Homo sapiens: one gene and its partner. The protein of the gene in region 2 interacts with the protein of the main gene of each other region in a biochemical or structural test. Each region holds a gene or a part of one and is shown on either strand. Other genes may lie near its edges.

The links. The genes of interacting proteins can lie anywhere in the genome.
Region 1: the proteins of RRBP1 (region 2) and FRMPD3 interact in a test that uses a peptide from one of them, tested with the Homo sapiens proteins (one large-scale study listed by IntAct).

What each region holds. Positions count from the first base shown.
Region 1 is NC_000023.11:107,448,249-107,452,451, forward strand, and holds the start of FRMPD3 (FERM and PDZ domain-containing protein 3), read left to right. Parts: upstream 1-1,403; 5' UTR 1,404-1,757; intron 1,758-4,203.
Region 2 is NC_000020.11:17,613,179-17,616,242, forward strand, and holds the end of RRBP1 (ribosome-binding protein 1), read right to left. Parts: intron 2,832-3,064; coding exon 2,748-2,831; intron 2,352-2,747; coding exon 2,253-2,351; intron 1,703-2,252; coding exon 1,559-1,702; intron 1,043-1,558; coding exon 1,004-1,042; 3' UTR 501-1,003; downstream 1-500. UniProt on the Homo sapiens protein: Acts as a ribosome receptor and mediates interaction between the ribosome and the endoplasmic reticulum membrane.

The DNA.
Region 1 (4,203 bases), on a different chromosome or scaffold from region 2:
TCTGTATCCTGGAAATTCCGTGCAGCCTAGGAGAACAGCCCTTGTCCCACAATTGCCCCTCAGTAGCCCTCCGGCCTCTTCTGAAGCTTTAACCAAGTGCTTGAAAAGAACCGAAAGTGAGGAAATATTCCAACTAGAATGGATCCCTTTGTGCCAACAGCCTCCTTTAGAGTTCAGGAACACAGAGGAAATCGAGGAGGGCTGACTTTTCACCTTAGAACTCACAAGGCCCAAATGTGCCAATGTTTAACTGTCTCTCCGAGGTGCTTCTGACACCCGGAAATTCACCATGTATTTGGCATCACCAGGAGCTCCTCAACTCCACTGCTTCCTCCTGCTTCTCTCTTCCCTGGCCTTAACTTCACCACCCAGACCCACTGTCCAGCTTCCCAGTCTCTCTGGGTCCCCACTGAGGCTGCCCTTTTTGGGGAAGGAAGAGTGGCCTTTTTTCTTGGCCCTCAAAACTCCTCTGAAGGGGTCTGGAGCCCGCTGGGAGACCAAGAGCTTCTCTTGAATCTCGGCTGCTGCATGTTTAGTATTCACAGCATGTCTCTAAAAAACGTCCTGAGATCATTCATCAGGCACTGTGCTGTGTGCCTAGCTGCTCTCCTTCCGGGTGTGTGTGTGTGGCCAGGACCCTCCCTCCATCTGCTGGTGAACACACATGCACACACACCTTAACCTTTTTCCCTTTTCACCAAACCAATCGCATTTTCTAAGCAGACCTTTGCCAGCTGGCAGATCGCTCCCTTACTGAGGTGGGCTCCTGGCGTTGGGCCTGGGCTCGAAGCCGCTCACACTCCAGTGCTGGGGAGAGGCGCTGAGAGCAGGAGCCCGAGCCGAAACTCAAGGTGCGTGTGGATGTTTGCGATGGTGACCAGGAGGGGAGCTGCAGGGAGGGCATCCCCAGCAGAAGGCGAGCAAACAAGGGGCGAGAAGCAAGGTCAGGGGCCAGGGAACGGAGTCTCCGAAGCAAGCGTTCCTGCTGCCCCTTCTCCGCAGTTCACTCCCCGCCCCCCTTTCCCGGGTTCACTTTGGAAATTGGCTTGCCCTCTCGGCAGCCAGCAGTTCCCGGCAGAGTCCGGCCGTAACGGTCAGATTCAAGAAGTGAGGCAGCGCCAGGCTGGGTGGCTGGGTTGCTGGGTTGTTCTTGGGAGATTCTTTCCCCAATTGTCAATTTTTTGCTTATTTTTAGTAGTGACCCGAGCCAGGAACTGCGCCTTTAAGCCGCTTTCCCATTCGGGGAAATCGACGCCAGCACTCGAGGGTCGGGAGGCGCCGGAGAGGCCCCTCATTCTGCACTCCCCTCTTTCCTCCCCCTCCCCCTCCCCCCGCCCCTTCTCCCCTCCCCTCCTCGGCCGTCCGGCCGCCTCGCCGCCATCCGTCACCTCGCAGCCTGCCGCACTCCTGGAGCGAGAGAGCGACGAGCGAGCCACGGCGATGGTGCCGCCCGCGGCGCAGCCATGAAGCCCGCCCGAGGAGCCCGCGCGCGCTCCTGCCATCCTGCCCGCAGCCCGCCGCCTGCGCGCCAGCTCCCCGCGTCCCGGGCCAGCTGCTGCCGCCCTGCCAACCTCTGCCCGCCCCGCCGCCCGGCGCCACTGAGCCCCAAGCCCATGCCGGGCTCGGGGGCACGGGTGCCCTAGTCCCGCTGCCGCCGCCGCCGCCGCCGCCGCTGCGCCGCCGCTGCCGCGCCGCTGAGGAGGCGGAGGAGGAGGAGGAGGAGGAGGAAGAGGAGGAGGAAGAGGAGGGGGAGGAAGGTAAGAGGCGCGCTGCCTTCAGGGGGGCGCGCCCGCTGTCTCAGCCCAACCGGGGGTGGGTCGCGGCGGGAGCGTTCCGCCCCGGGCCGGCTGGGGGGCGACTGGCGCTTGGGCGCCCCCGGGAGCCGGGGGCAGGGCGGGGGGCGCCGAACGTCTGGCCGCCCGGAGTTTGGGCGGGCGGGGTAACGGCCCGTTGCGTGCCCACTGCCCCGGCGAGTCTCTGGCTTGGCGGGCTCGTTTGGCCTCCGCGGGTGCGGGGTGAGGAGTCGAGCGCAGGGGAGTGCAGCGCGTTCATTATGGAGCCTTTGTGTGCGCGCCTGGGCTGTGGGCACAGTTGGGAGAGCTGGCGAGACGCGGGGCCTGGCTGCTAGGAGGTGGCCACTTAGCCGGGGTGCCCGGCGAAGCCCGAGCCCAGGGGCTGCCAGAAACAGCTGTCTGAAGCATGTGCGTGGTTCCCGGGGCCATGTTCACAAGCGGACACGGAGGCGCACACACACGCACACACAGCCGCACAACATACCCGGCGCTCAGCCACACAGTCAGCCCCATGCAAAGACCACACACACACACACACACACACACACACACACACACACAGAGAGAGAGAGAGAGAGCGCGAGCTACACTTGCCCCCTCCCACCAAGATGCTAATAAAGCTCAAACACATATACAGATACATGCACCTCCCCCTAGCGCTGCTAAAACATGCACACACAAACACACTCCTCTACTCCCCAGCCTAGTGCTTTGGAGGTTGGAGAGTGTGTGTGTGTATGTGAGTGTGTGTGTGTTTTCTCAGAGTGGTCTTGAGAAACTACATGACAACTGCACATTACTGCAGATCCAGTACCTGCTGCTTCCCCCCAATACACACCCAGCAACCCCCCGTCACACGCAGCTACTGTAGACACCTCCACCAGAGCCCTTAAGAACCCCATTCTGGCAAAAAGCGTGCCCAACTCTGGTAGTCATACCCTCCACGCTCGAGCTGTTGGGTTTCCTGCACACACACACCACAGCCCCATACACACACACTGAAACCACTGCAGGGGCAAATGTTTGACACCTTCCCCCAGAAGCAGGTGGCACCTCCACCCTTGCAGCTGCAACTAAAGAGCCCCAGATGACAGCAAACGCCGAATTCTGCTAGACCTGCCCCTCCCCTTGGCATCTTGGTCCAGGTGCAAAACCCTGGAGTCCACCGGGTGGTCTTAGCATCCTGCAGCTCTTACGGAGGGCGGGGCAGTCTCTGGACTCCTGCCTTCGGAGGAACTGCTATAAGCGCAAGGCTCCCTTGGGGGCGCCCTTCTCGAAGTGGAGGGTGGGGGATTCTATGCTGACTCAGAGCGAAGCACCAAGTGAGTTTTCCCAGCTGGAGACCGGGGTAAATGGCGAACTCCACCTGGGCCTAGAGGACCCGGGATAGTGTGCCAGTTCAGCCACAGAGGCCCTCAGCTTGGAGGCCCTGCCCCTCCCTCGCCTTCCTTGCCCATGAAGCTCACTGCAGGAGAAGCAGGGGGAACCCAGCTGCCAGCTTCTTGGGAGCTAAGAGAGGCTTTTCGGGAAGCCTTTGCTGTTTCCGCTGAGCAAAGAGATCTTGCTCTACCCGGGGAGACCTCAACAAGACTTGGCCGTGCCCAAGCAAACATGCCAGCGTCTACCCAATTTCATGGCTTGTTTTTTTGTTTGTTTGTTTTTGTATTTCATGTGAAAGGACTAATTCAACCTTAGCAGCTTGTCATGAAGGCACCCCTGAGGTTAAATAAGGCATAATGTATTGTGGATGGGGGAAACAAGGTTGAGGGGAGCAAGGACTAGTGGGTTTTACTGTTTTAAGTAGAGATGCGGAGTTAGAATGTAGACCGTGGTAAAATCGTGACGGCGATGGCTTCTACGTCAGAGCCCCTTCCCTGCTCCTGCCCCTCCCGTCGGCTGCTCAGGGCTCCTCTGGGTCCTCTCCCCCGCCCCCTTAGATTATTTAGGCGGGGCTTTGCTCACTGCTCGGGCAAATTTGATGACAGAATCCCTGCCAGGCCAAGGTGTTAATAGCTGATAGAGGTTTACTGCTTACACCTCACAGGTAACATTTGCATTTTTAAAGGACACAGAGGAGTGACTCTGTTGGTGGGGCTTTCAGGCACCTGTGGCAGGACTCAGGCAGGAGCAGTTTGTGGACAACCTCATCTGTCTACTCTACTGTCTGTGCCTAGGCCAGAGTTATGGGTGATGTGTGTGTGGGAGTGAGGGTGTCAGAAGGTGAGATGTAATTGTGGAGGGTTTTGAGGCCCACAAAGAGAAGGTTTCAATTGACTTGAGAGGCAATTGGGAGCCACTGCCAGATTCTGAGAAAGGAGGGAATAAGATATAAGCAGGAAAGAAACACTCATTGCTGCATGTGGAGAGAATATCCCCTATCTCTCGCTGGCACCCAACACCACAACCGCCT
Region 2 (3,064 bases):
CTGAGGGTCGTGGCAAACCTAAGCTGGTTTCTGCAGGTGAAACTCCACCTCCCGAGGGCAGGCAGTGGGCTGCTCCAGCCCTGGCCCACCCTCCTGGGGTGTGGGTGTCTAAGCCCCAGCCAGGACAGAGACCCCTTGTTCATTCCCGGACCTCCATCACGCAACAGCCCGGGCCACCAGCCGCGCTCACAAACCTCAGCCCCTCCGGGATGCGGGGCAGCAGTAAATGTATCTGGCTCTCAGGTGTCGCAGGCCCTGCTCCCTTATCCTGCCCGGAGGGCACTGAGGTCTGGGAGGTGACAAGGAAAACTGCTGGGGGCCCCGGAAGCAGCGAGTCTCAGCCCCACCCCACGCTACGCGGAGCTGCAGAGCCTCTGCCTTCAAAGCAGCTGAGGCCCACGCTTACTCTCTTCCCGAGTGCGCCCCCACCCCTTGGTTCTTCATCTTGGGCCCAACAGCGGGTGGGGGAGCCCCAGCAGAAGACCAGACGAGACCGCAGCACCGGGCACCAACGTTGGTTTTAATGGCATCAACACCCAGGAGGTCACACGTCAGTTCTGGTTGGCAACGTCTAGGGGTGAGGGGCTGTGGCCTCCAGTCGGCCCCACAGCCTTTGAGAACTGGCTGCCCGGTCCCACCCGCTTCCCGCCCCGCCCCACTGAAAAAACACTAAACGATTGCACTGACAGACAGACCCCAGAGCGCCCGGCCTCCCACACACCCACGGGGCTGTCAGAGTCAACCAGGGCTTTGGCGTCACTCGGCGGTGGCCCGGGGCTGCGCCCAGGATAGTGTTTATCAAATGTGACACAGGTTCATTTACAAACTGGGGCTCTGGAAGGTCTACTTCTGTGGCTCTAAGAGACTTGTCTCTCATGGCTTCTCTCGGAGCTACCGGAAGTTGGGCCTGGATAACGCTGTGTAGGTTGGTTGGTTTATTTGTAAGGAATGTGTAAGGCATTTTGGTAAGTTGAACAGTAACTTCTTTTTCCAAAGAGGAAACTCAGACAGAGGTGCCCTCCTTTGAGCTGCTGCCGTCCTCCTGTGAACGAAGGCAGGTGGCGTGAGGGGGGCTGGGCCACGAGCCATGGCAGAACCACCTGCCCTCTACCCTGGGCCTTTAGTCCCTCCCTGGATTGACCCCCTCAAGCCACTCCAGTCCCTCAGAGAACAGGAGCCACAGACCCCTGGGGCTGGGGGACAGGGAGGACTTGGTGGGAGCTGAGGGGAAACCATCATCCTGCAGGGCAGGGGCTGGAGCACTGGCTAAGGGGCCCACACAGGTGCAAAGTGAGGACCTGGGCCAGCAGGGGGATCAGACACTCGCTTCCCAGCAAGGGAACCCCAGAAGGGTGGGTGGTGGGCCGGGTGGGCTGAAGCCCTCGTTAGGAAGTCTCTGTCCCCACTACCTCCGCCCAGCTCTGCCTCCCCTGGGGCTCCCAGCCCAGCGCTCCCAGCAGCTTGACGACTCCGCCCAGCTCTGCCTCTCCCGGTCCTGCCTCCCCGGGGCTCCCGGCAGCTCGACTCCTCCCGCCCTGCTTTGGCGCCAGGCACGCACTGCCTTTTCCAGCTGTTCCTGCAGCTTCTTCACCGTGTCCTTCTCCCTTGCCAGCTGCTCCTGGGTCGTCTTCAGAAGCTCCTGCAGTCTCGTGGCGGCGCGCCCCAGGTCACTTGTTAACTTCTTCTCTTTTTCTAGTCTCTCCTGATGGTCAGAAGGTTGACGGGCATCAGCCCTTGCACCGGCAGGAGGGCCACCCCAGCTATGCCCACAGGACCCTGACGCCAGGGGCTGGAGCCCTCTGGGGACACAAGGAAGGCAACTCCTGGTCACCCGGAGATAGGTGGTGACGACAGGGAGGAAACCGCCCATGCTGACCGTGAGGGCTGGGTCCTGTGCTCTCAGCACCACCAGAACTTCCTGGGGCAGGAGCAGTTTACTCCGCACTGTCCAAGGCAGCACAGGAGACACACCTGACTACTGAGCGCTGGACGTGTGGCTGAGGAACGCACTTCACGTTCTACATGCTTCACATTTCGACAGCCACCAGGACTAATGGCTGCCATGTGACCATGTGACACTGCAGGGCTAGGAGTCCCCACCCCAGCCCCGGGTAGTGACAAGGGGAACCAGTGCCAAGGGCAGGTCCCGGTGGGGTCGGCTCTCCCCTTCCTGGCCCCTTTCCGAGGCCAAGAGTGGCGCCAGCCCCAGAGCAGACCCTCCAGGTGTGACCCCCGCCCCAGCCCCTGCCTGCCTTCAGCTGTGAGGCCTCCTCTGTTTCTGAAGACTCTAGGGGGCCGGCTGTGCGGAGCTTCTCCAATTCTTCTTGTAACCGACATGCCGAGGTCTGAGCCTTGCCGGAGAGGGAAGTGAGGTCTGGGTGAGACGTCTTATAAACGGCTGTGCTGTCAAGACCCTACCGAGCACGCCTGGGGACCAGGGGGCCCCCCCAGCCTGATGGAGCAACAGCTCCATCCTGTAGCTGGAATGAGTGGGCCAGACCCACAAGTTCTGACCCAGCCCCAGGCCCTCAAGGCTCCTCAGGGATGCAGACCACCCACAGGGCTCCCAAGGTGCCTCCAGCCTGTGCTCCACCTGCCCGGGCCCCACCCACTGCTGCCCAGAAGGCCCAGGCCCAGCCCAGGTGCTGCTGGGCACAGCCGAGCGGGGCAGGGCTGACCCACTCATTCCCTGGAGACTCAGGGCCCAGGGGCTGATGGGGGCTGAGAGCCACCAGGCAGGGCCTGACCTCCTCAAACTCGGCCGTGAGCTTCTGCCGCTGTGTCTGCTCATCCTCCAGGATGGCTTCTGTCCACTCCAGCTGCGTCTTCAGCTGTGCAAACACCGCAAACATAACCCGGCAGCCCGGTGAGGAACCCTCCAGGGGCCCAGGGATCCAGCACAGGCACCGCTCTCTAGCTGCTTCTAGCTTCCCCTTTCCCTGCCCCAACGCTCCCCTCGTTGGGGAGAGGGCACCTCAGCCCCTGGTACAGACTTCGGTGTGGCTCAGGAGCAGCTGATGGGGCCTCTGCAACCTCAGGGGCCTTTAACGAGACTCACAGGACA